3 linked regions of the Homo sapiens genome follow. The protein of the gene in region 3 purifies or fractionates together with the protein of the main gene of each other region. This does not show direct contact. Each region holds a gene or a part of one and is shown on either strand. Other genes may lie near its edges. The genes, in order: ITIH2, DCAF6 and PCSK1.

Region 1 (3,659 bases), on a different chromosome or scaffold from region 3:
AAGCATTATTCCCATCACAGTGGTCTTTCCCCAGCATTCGAGGGCCTATCTTAAATAATACATTTATTGGTAATGGATGAATGCTAAGTTTGTAGTGAAAGTAGAATTTGTAATACAGCCCACATAAGCTTTGAACCGTTTTAATGTCTCTCAGAAAAAGGTTCAGTGACACTGGCCTTCTTTATTGCCTGCATAAAGCATAAAATGTTACTATCTTCAGAGTATCTTGGCAAGGCTGATTTGGATACTTTAATCTGGTGTTTAACAAGCTAACAGTCTGTGCTTTGAAAGGGCTAGTTCATCTCTAAGGGGATAGTTTATTTCAAAGTGAATATTTCACTGCACTGGGGGACCACCAGCTTGAGCACAGTTTGTGTCACTCAGAAAGCAATGAAATGATTTTGGCATGGAATAAGTGATGGATAAGTGATCAGCCGACATATGAGTCTGAATCCAGAATGGGATTTTCTGCGTGTGGCGAGAACGCATACCCAACGTTTCATTATGCTACTTCAACAGGCACAAACATCAACGAAGCACTCCTACGGGCAATCTTCATTTTGAATGAAGCCAATAACTTGGGACTGTTAGACCCCAACTCCGTCTCGCTGATCATTTTGGTTTCTGATGGAGATCCAACAGTGGGCAAGTGTCACTTCAACCTTCTCACGACAAACACTTTCACTGTTGTTTCTTGGAATGGTGGTTTGCCTAAAAGGGGAACTCTAATGGCATTTGCCTGAGTTTCTAGAACATTTTAAACCCATGCTTCCTAAAGGAGGTCTTCTGATCCTGCAGCCCTCACCCCTTAAGCTACTGCTCAGACACTTTCAGCAAGGGCGCTCTTGAATGCCTCAGTTCCACCTCCACAATATGCAGAAATCTGAGTCTGAATTTTAATAGTATGTTGTGAGGATTGCTGATGCATTCTAGGGAAATGCATCTATTTCCTCAACTTGAGGTATGTGAAGATGGTGTATGGGGGTGGTGAATGATGAGTATTGATCCCAGATCTCCCAGCAGTACCTTTGGAGGCCACAGTAGCATATTCCCTATTATTCTCCACACTTCTCCCGGTTGCACCTGGAGAAATGACTGCTCTCTGACACAACCTTGAAGTTAAACATTTTTCTTTCTACAAAATGGGCAGCAACATCTCCCTACTTCTATTATTTATTTTTATTTTTGTTACATTAGTTTATTTTATTTATTTTTGAAGACAGGGTCTTGCTCTGTCACCCAGGAGGGAGTGCAGTGGAGCACACACAGCTCACTGCAGCCTCAACCTCCCATGCTCAAGTGATCCTCCTACCTCAGCCTCCTGAGTAGCTGGGACTACAGGTGTGCACCACCACACTCAGCTAATTTCTTTTTTTTCTTTCTTTTTTTTTTTGGAGAGACGAAGTCTCACTATGTTGCTCAGGCTGATCTCAAAATCCTGGGCTCAAGCAGTCCTCCCACCTCGGACTCCCAAAATGTTGAGATTACAGGTGTGAGCCACTGTGCCAAGCTATCTTTGTTTTACTTGTGTCTTTATTCTGGCCACTGTAAGTAATAGCGAATGCCAGATTGTGTTGCCTGAGTGTGCTGTCGTACAGACTAGGACCGAGTCTAACACGTCCTGACACAGCCAAGCAGAATGAAAATGCACGAGGCAAAAACAATGGCAGTCAGAGCTTTAGAAAGCCAGAGAGCAACCATCTTATTAATAACGAGACTAGAATGAGCCAGTGTTATGTATTTGTTGTAGAGCCAATGTTTTCTCCCTCAGATCAGATTATTTTCAAAATTCAAGTTTTGAATGAAATCATAAGGTGGAAAAGGAAATATAGTTTAAAATATTAAACTTGCCAGGCATGGTGGCTCACACCTGTAATCCCAGCACTTTGGGAGGCTGAGGTGGGTGGATCACCTGAGGTCAGGAATTCAAGACCAGCCTGGCCAACATGGTGAAACCCCATCTCTACTAAAAATACAAAATTAGCCTGACAGGGCGGCGTGTGCCTGTAATCCCAGCTATTCGGGAGGCTGAGACAGGAGAATCCCTTGAACCCAGGAGGCGGAGGTTGCAGTGAGCTGAGATCGTGCCACTGCACTCCAGCCTGGGCAACAAAGTGAGACTCTGTCTCAAAAAAAAAAACAAAATTAAACCATAATTTGGTTTAATCATGGTTTCTCACTCCTGTTTCTCAACCATTCAGTTCCTGTCCCTGGAATCAGTCACTGGTTACCAGTTTCTTGTGTATCTTTCCACAAATAGTTTATGCATGCCTGTATACTATATATACATGTTTGCACACATGTATGTGTATATGCATACATACACATACATACATTTATACATGCATGCATGCAAATGCATCCTAGGTACCCTGATATTTACCTTGTTTTTTTTTTCTCCTCTAAACATGCCCTTGAGATTGTCTGGTATACATACATAAGGAGTTTCCATGTCCTTTTTAATAGCTGCATAGTATCTCACGGTTTAAATGTATCATCATCTAACCAAGCGCCCTCATTGGTGCATATTTATGTTGTTTCCAATATGTTGCTAATTCCCAAATAATGTTGCTATGCAACACAACCCACACTTCATTTCAACATGTACGAGTGCATCTCTAAGAAAAACTAGAAATTGAGTTACTGGGTCAAAAGGGAAATGCAGTTTTAATCTGGACACACTTTACTAAACTGCCCTCCCTGGATTTTCCAGAAAATTTATGATATTGCTTCTTCATTCCTTTCCTTTCGGACATCACCAACTTTAGGCGAACTAAAACTGTCAAAAATTCAGAAAAACGTTAAGGAGAACATCCAAGACAATATCTCCTTGTTCAGTTTGGGCATGGGATTTGATGTGGACTATGATTTTTTGAAGAGACTGTCCAATGAAAACCATGGAATTGCACAAAGGATTTATGGAAACCAGGACACGTCTTCCCAGCTTAAGGTAACATTTTCTTCTGTTCTTTTTTTATTCTTCACTGGAAATCATTTAACTACCCATATCTGATGCAGGTATGATGCATAACTGAACTTAACTCAAAATGGTCATGATCTCAGCCATATTTGGTTGCAAGGATCAGGGAAGTGCCCAGTTCCTTTCTCACATGTTTCCCCCCACCCTCATATTTCTGCAGTAACAGTGAGGTATGAGGCAGATGGGTGTTGGGAACAGCTGTCCTACCCCCTGAACAAAAAGGCCTTCTGAGCGTCATCAAAGCTCCTTGTAGCTCTCCTGCCCCACCAGCAATTGGTCTTCTTATCATCATGGCCAACCGTTTTCTCTTTAACGTGCATTGGCATCTTGGTATCAATTTTTCACAGTGTAAATTTTCTTAAGTATTAAGATACAGGCTGAGTGTGGTGGCTCATGCCTGTAATCCCAGCTCTTTGGAGGCCAAGGTGGGAGGATCACTCGAGCCCAGAGGTTTAAGGCCAGCTTGGGCAACATAGTGAGATCCATCTGTTCAACAGATAATTTTTTTAATTAAAATACATATATTGAAAAGACACAAACTACTTGTTTGTTTTGATTAAATAGATGAGAAAATGATGTAGGGAAAGAACATGTTTTTCCCTGCTCTTTGTCAGTACCAGGCATCGTATTTAAATTTGGGAACAAGTAAGAGATAAGATTCTGATTTGGGGACTATTAA
Region 2 (3,659 bases), on a different chromosome or scaffold from region 3:
TACCAAAGTGCTGGGATTACAGGCGTGAGCCACCGCGCCTGGCCGAAATTTGGTCTTTTTTAAAAAAATTTATAGTTATCCTGGCTATTCTGAACCCTTTCTATTTCCATAAAAATTTTAGAACTAGCTTGTCAATTTCTACAAAAAGACTTGGGATTTTGTGTTGAATCTATATATTATTTCAGGGAGAACTGACATGTTTACAATATGAATCTTCTCATCTGTGGTTCTGGTTTGTCTCCGTGTATTAAGCATTCTTTGATTCTCTCAGCAGTGATTTGTATTTTTTGGTGTTAGGTTTATCCTTAAATATTTCATATTTGTAATGCTATTTTAGATGATATTTTTATTTATTTTTACTTTTTATTTGTACAAATTTATGGGTACATATGCAGTTTTGTTACATGCATAGATTATGCTGCAGTCAAGTGAGGGCTTTTAAGGTATCCATCACCTGAATAACGTTCTTTGTCCTCATTAACGAATTTCTCATCATCCTCCCACCTCCTCATTCTTCCACTCCATTATGTATCATTCCACTCTGCATCTGTGTGAACACGTTTGTTTAGAACACACTTATGAGTCAGAACATCATACTTGTCTTTGTGTGCCTGGTTTGTTTAACCTAAGATAATGACCTCTAGTTCCATCCACGTTGCTGTATATGTCATGATTTCATTCATTTTTTTTTTGAGATGGAGTCTCACTCTGTCGCCCAGGCTGTAGTGCAGTGGTGAGATCTCGGCTTACTGCAAGTTCCGCCTCCGAGGTTCACGCCATTCTCCTGCCTCAGCCTCCCAAGTAGTTGGGACTACAGGTGCCCGCCACCACACCTGACTAACTTTTTTTTTGTATTTTCAGTAGAGACAGGGTTTCACAGTGTTAGCCAGGATGGCCTCGATCCCCCGACCTTGTGATCTGCCCGCCTCGGCCTCCCAAAGTGCTGGGATCACAGGGGTGAGCCACCACGCCCAGCCTGATTTCATTCTTTGTTATGGCTGAATAGTATTCCATTGTGTATATATACCACATTTTCTTTACCTGTTCATCCATTGATGGACACTTAGGTTGATTCCATATCTTTGCTGTTGTGAATAGTGCTGCAGTAAACATACTGGTGCACATATCTTTTAGATATATTAATTTCTTTTCTTTTTGTAAAAATCTAGTAGTGGGATTGCTAGATGGAAAGATAGTTCTATTTTTAATTCTTGGAGAAATCTCCATACTGTTTTCCATAGAGGCTGTACTAATTTACATTCCCACCAATGGTATATAAGAGTTCCCTTTTTTTCACATGATAACCAACATTGTCTGTCTTTTTAATAAAAGACATTCTGACTAGGATAAGGTGATATCTCATTGTGAATTTGATTTGCATTTCTCTTATGACTGGTAATGTTGAGCATTTTTTCATATACCTGTTGGGTGTATGCTTTTGAAAAATGTCTATTCATGTGTTTTGCCTACTTTTTAATAGGATTGTTAGATTTTTTTGGTTGTTGAATCGTTTGAGTTCCTTGTGTAGTCTGGATATTAGTCCCCTGTTGGATGAATAATTTGCAGATATTTTCTGTCATTCAACAGGATTGGTTGTCTCTTCAATCTGTTATTTCTTTTGCCATGCAGAAGCTTTTTAGTTTAATTGAGTCCCATTTGTCTGTTTTCTAGTATCTTTATAGTTTTGGGTCTTACACTTAAGTCTTTAATCCACCTTGAGTTGATTTTTATGTATTAGTGAGAGATAAGAGTTCAATTGCATTCTTCTGCATATGGATATCTAATTTTCTCAGCACCATTGATTGAAGAGGGTTTCGTTTCCACAGTGTATGTTCTTGTCGGCTTTGTCAAACATCAGTTGGCTGCAAGTATGCGGCTTTATTTCTGGGTTCTCTATGCTGTTCCATTGACCTGTGTGTCTTATTTTTATACCAGTAACCTGCTGTTCTGGTTAGTATAGTCTTGTAATATAATTTGAAGTTAGATAATGTGATGCCTCTAGCTTTATTCTTTTTGCTCAGCATTGCTTTGGCTATTGGGGCTTCTTTTTGGTTCCATATGAATTTTAGGATTGTTTTTTCTAATTTTGCAAAAAATTAACTTGGTATTTTGATAGGGATTGTATAGAATATGTAGGCTGCTTTGTACAGTATGGTCATTTTAATGATATTCTTCTGAATATCCAGTGATCATGGGATGTTTTTCCATTTGTGTCATGTATAATTTCTTTTAGCTGTGTTTTGTAGTTCTCCTTGTAGGGATTTTACCTCTGGTTAAATATATTCCTAGTTTGTGTGTGTGTGTATGTGTGTGTTTATAATTTCTTTTTTCTTTTTTTCTTTTTTGAGACGGAGTCTCACTCTGTCACCCAGGCTGGAGTGCAGTGGCACAATCTCGGCTTACTACAACCTCCGGCTCCCAGGTTCAAGCACTTCTCCTGCCTGAGCCTCCAGAGTAGCTGGGACTACAAGTGCGCACCACTATGCCCAGCTAATTTTTGTGTGTGTGTGTATTTTTAGTAGAGACAGGGTTTCACCATGTTGGCCAGGATGGTCTCGATCTCTTGACCTTGTGATCCACCCACCTTGGCCTCCCAAAGTGCTGGGATTACAGGCGTGAGCCACCACACCCGGCCTTTTTTTTTTTGTTATTTGTAGCTATTGTAAATGGGATTGTGTTCTTGATTTGGTTTTCATTTTGAATCATTATTGGTGTGTAGAAACACTACTAATTTTTGTATGTTGATTTTGTATCTTGCAAGTTTACTGAATTCATTTACCAAATCTAAGGGTTTTTTTTTTTTTTTTTTTGAGACAGAATTTCATTCTGTTGCCCAGGCTGGAGTGCAATGGCACAATCTCAGCTCACTGCAAGCTCTGCCTCCCGGGTTCAAGTGATTCTCCTGCCTCAGCCTCCCGAGTAGCTGGGATTACAGGCATGTGCCACCACACCCGGCTAATTTTTGTAGTTTTAGTAGAGACAGGGTTTCACCATGTTGGCCAGCTGGTCTTGAACTACTGACCTCAGGTGATCTGGCCACCTCAGCCTCCCAAAGTGCTGGGATTACAGGCATGAGCTACCGCGCCTGGCAAATCTAAGAGTTTTTGTGGGGAGTCTTTAGGTTTTTCTAGATATAAGATCATATCATCAGGAAACAGGGATAATTTGACTCCTTCCTTTATAATTTTGATGCCTTTTGTTTCATTCTCTTGCCTGATTGCTCTGGTTAGGACTTCCAATACTATATTGAAGAGTGGTGAAAGTAGGCATCCTTGTTTTCTTCCAGTTCTTAAAGGAATGCTTTCATCTTTTCCCTATTCAGTATGATGTTAGTTACAGGTTTATCATATATGGCCTTTATTATTTTGAGGTATGATCTTTCTGTGCCTAGTTTACTAAGGGTTTTTCTTATGAAGGGATGTTGAATTTTATTAAATTCTTTTTTCGCGTCTATTAAGATGATCATATGGTTTTTGCCCTTCATTCTGTTGATATGATGTATCACATTTATTGATTTGCATATGTTGACCTATCCTTGCATTCCTGGTATAAAACCCACTTGATCATGGTGTATTATCTTTTTGATTTGGTGTTGGATTTGGTTTGCTAGTATTTTGTTGAGGATTTTTGCATTTGTGTTCATTAATCTGTAGTTTTCT
Region 3 (2,867 bases):
CCCTGTCTTGTCCATGTGGTTCTTCAAATTTTGATGCCAAGAAAGTATTTGGTAGGCCTAATGAAGGAGTTCACTGTAAGACTCATTCCCTAGATCTTTCTATTCCAAAGTGCCACTCATTCCTGTAGTCAAAATCTGGTCATGTTGGTCAAAAGCTGGATTATTTAGATCTAGAAACAGATCTTGAAATCTGAATGCTCTGGTTTGAGCAATTTTCGAACATTCTTTGCCTGGTGCACTGTGTCTGTGGTGCCAGAGGCGTCCGTGGATCCAGAGGTGGTTATGACTCGTGCTGCATGCCTGGTCTTTCCTCTGTTTCTCCTTCTGAAAGTTTTCTATACCTGTCTCCTTTCTCAGCCACAAAATAAATGTTGGGAGAAATGATATATACCACTTTCCCAGAAAAAAAAAAACTTACACTTGGGACTTGGCAAATTCCTAGTCACAATTTTTTTCAGCAGTAACAGGAAACCACTTATCACATGGAGACCTAATGTAATAATAGAAAAATACTCATAATAGGGAGAAACCAAGAGAAGTTTTGTTTTTGTTTTTTTCCAACTGTGTTCATTAGAACAGCGTGTTCTAAGTATTTGAAACTGAATGTTTATTCCTTGATACTAAAAGTTCTTCTCCAATCCTATCACTGATAGTGTCCAAATTCTCACCAAATTGCTCCTAAGCTTCAAATCAGAAGCAGAAACTGGCAGGCCATGGACCTTAATTGTCCCTCAGGTAGATTTTGTTTGGTATGCAGAATGTTTTTAAAATATGAGTGGTTATTGAAAATATGATGTTTCACATAAAACCTCATTCTCGGACCCATCTTTGCTCATGGCAACAGTTAGCTGGAGCTGAGTAGCAGCTGCCTGATTAGATGACTCTCAGTCCCCATGGCACCCTGCTCCATGTTACCTAGAGCAGGCACTTGATTCCTTGCTGGGCAGTATCCAATAGGCATTTGATTTTGCCCACTCCTACACTAAGCGAATGTGTACAAAGTGTAAATGCATTAGGAAAAACAAACTACCCGCATCTTCTGTTAGGCAGGATCTGTACAATAATAATTATGAGTTTGCTTATGTAATCTCACCTCACCTGGATGATCACTAATACTAATTCATTTATTACTAACCTTCTGGCTTCCTTCTCTCAATATGCTTACAAAGTCTCCAGTCACCTACAATGCTGGCTTTCTCCCACTGAGTTTGCTGTTTGCAATTTTTCCATGAAGTTTGAACTTCATAAGGTAATTCATGGCATTGAACTGGTTCATGAAAAGAACACTAGAGTCTGTCATTTGCTTTGGCTTGAAGTATGGTTGGTAACACAAATTTTCACCTGCTCTTCTACCATTTGAATTTGTGTAGAGGGTGTTTGCAGAGCAATGCCCGTAATGCTTAGAGAATGTTCTCCTAAAAGACTTGCGGAATCACTCTGTCCTTGGAAGTTTCATATATTGTTTGATATGAAGTGTTAGATAGAATTTCCAATATTGGAGCATATCAAAAAGTATTAAAACTAAAAAGGACCAGAGAATTCTTAGATTGGCCCGGAAAGGCCAATAAAGAGTTAGAATGAAAACTCATTACTTTTCCATTCCCAATCTAGTGCTAGATGTATAAATCTTTCTTTTGATTCTTCCTAACAAAATATTTTCTGGGTTAAAACCCCAGCCAACTCATTGGGTTGTAGCCAAAGGTTCACTCTCAAGAAGCTTTAATATTTAAATAAAATCATATTGAATGTTTCCAACCTGGAGTATAATATTCAGATATAAAACAGTTTTGTCAGTCTTTCTTAGTGCCTGTGTGGATTTTTGTGAAAATGTCAAAGAGAAAACTTATATACTATTTCCCTTGAAATTTTAAACTATATTTTCTTTACAGGTATTTATAATATACCAATGCTTTTATCAAACAGAATTTTAAAGAGCATAATAAATTATATTAAAGAACCAAAAGTTTTCCTGAGAATAAGAAAGTTTCACCCAATAAAATATTTTTGAAAGGCATGTTCCTCTGTCAATGAAAAAAAGTACATGTATGTGTTGTGATATTAAAAGTGACATTTGTCTAATAGCCTAATACAACATGTAGCTGAGTTTAACATGTGTGGTCTTGGTATTCTTAAGGGAACTTCCACATTATACATTTGATGTATTGACCAGAATATGTAAAATATGCTTATAAATCAGAAAAATAAATTGTTTCTCACTAAGTCAAAAGAAAAAAAGCTCATGTTTCCACCACAAACAAGATCTCCCTCTTTTATTGTGTTTCCCAAATGGACTATACAAAAGAAAAGCTGACAGTTTACATTAAGGAGTTAATTCCTTTTTAGGAAATTGGGCTTTCTTGGAGTCAATTTAAGAATCTACCTGAACAAGGTATGTTTTATTTTCCTCTCTAGCCCATCCTTCACTTTCTTGACAACATGCAAAGCTGTATGACTGAGCCTTAACTGAAATGTTGAGAAATGAACAAACTATCTAAACTAAACTAAACAGACTTACTACATGTAAGAGAAATGATTCCCAACATTTCACCAAATAGGACTTAGTTTACAGGCTAGAGTAAAGCAGCTAAGTGTGAAATCCTTCCCAGAGGTTCTCTCATTAGAACCCTCAAAGTTCCAACTTTTTTTTTTTCTTTTGCTAGAGTCTCACTCTTTTGCCCGGACTACAGTGCAATGGCATGATCATGGCTCACTGCAGCCTCCACATCCCAGGCTCAAACGATCTTCCCACCTCAGCCTCCCTTGTAGCTGGGACTACAGGTGTGCACCGCCACACCCAGCTAATTTTTGTGTTTTTTGTAGGGACAGGTTTCGTCATGTTGCCCAGGCTGGTCTCAAACTTTTGGGCT

The links.
Region 1: the proteins of PCSK1 (region 3) and ITIH2 purify together in Homo sapiens (affinity purification with mass spectrometry; one large-scale study listed by BioGRID and IntAct). This does not show direct contact.
Region 2: the proteins of PCSK1 (region 3) and DCAF6 purify together in Homo sapiens (affinity purification with mass spectrometry; one large-scale study listed by BioGRID and IntAct). This does not show direct contact.

Annotation. Positions count from the first base shown.
Region 1 is NC_000010.11:7,727,184-7,730,842, forward strand, and holds part of ITIH2 (inter-alpha-trypsin inhibitor heavy chain H2 precursor), read left to right. Parts: intron 1-519; coding exon 520-645; intron 646-2,768; coding exon 2,769-2,950; intron 2,951-3,659. UniProt on the Homo sapiens protein: May act as a carrier of hyaluronan in serum or as a binding protein between hyaluronan and other matrix protein, including those on cell surfaces in tissues to regulate the localization, synthesis and degradation of hyaluronan which are essential to cells undergoing biological processes.
Region 2 is NC_000001.11:167,943,165-167,946,823, forward strand, and holds part of DCAF6 (DDB1- and CUL4-associated factor 6), read left to right. Parts: intron 1-3,659. UniProt on the Homo sapiens protein: Ligand-dependent coactivator of nuclear receptors. Enhance transcriptional activity of the nuclear receptors NR3C1 and AR. May function as a substrate receptor for CUL4-DDB1 E3 ubiquitin-protein ligase complex.
Region 3 is NC_000005.10:96,389,721-96,392,587, reverse strand, and holds the end of PCSK1 (neuroendocrine convertase 1 isoform 1 preproprotein), read left to right. Parts: 3' UTR 1-2,255; downstream 2,256-2,867.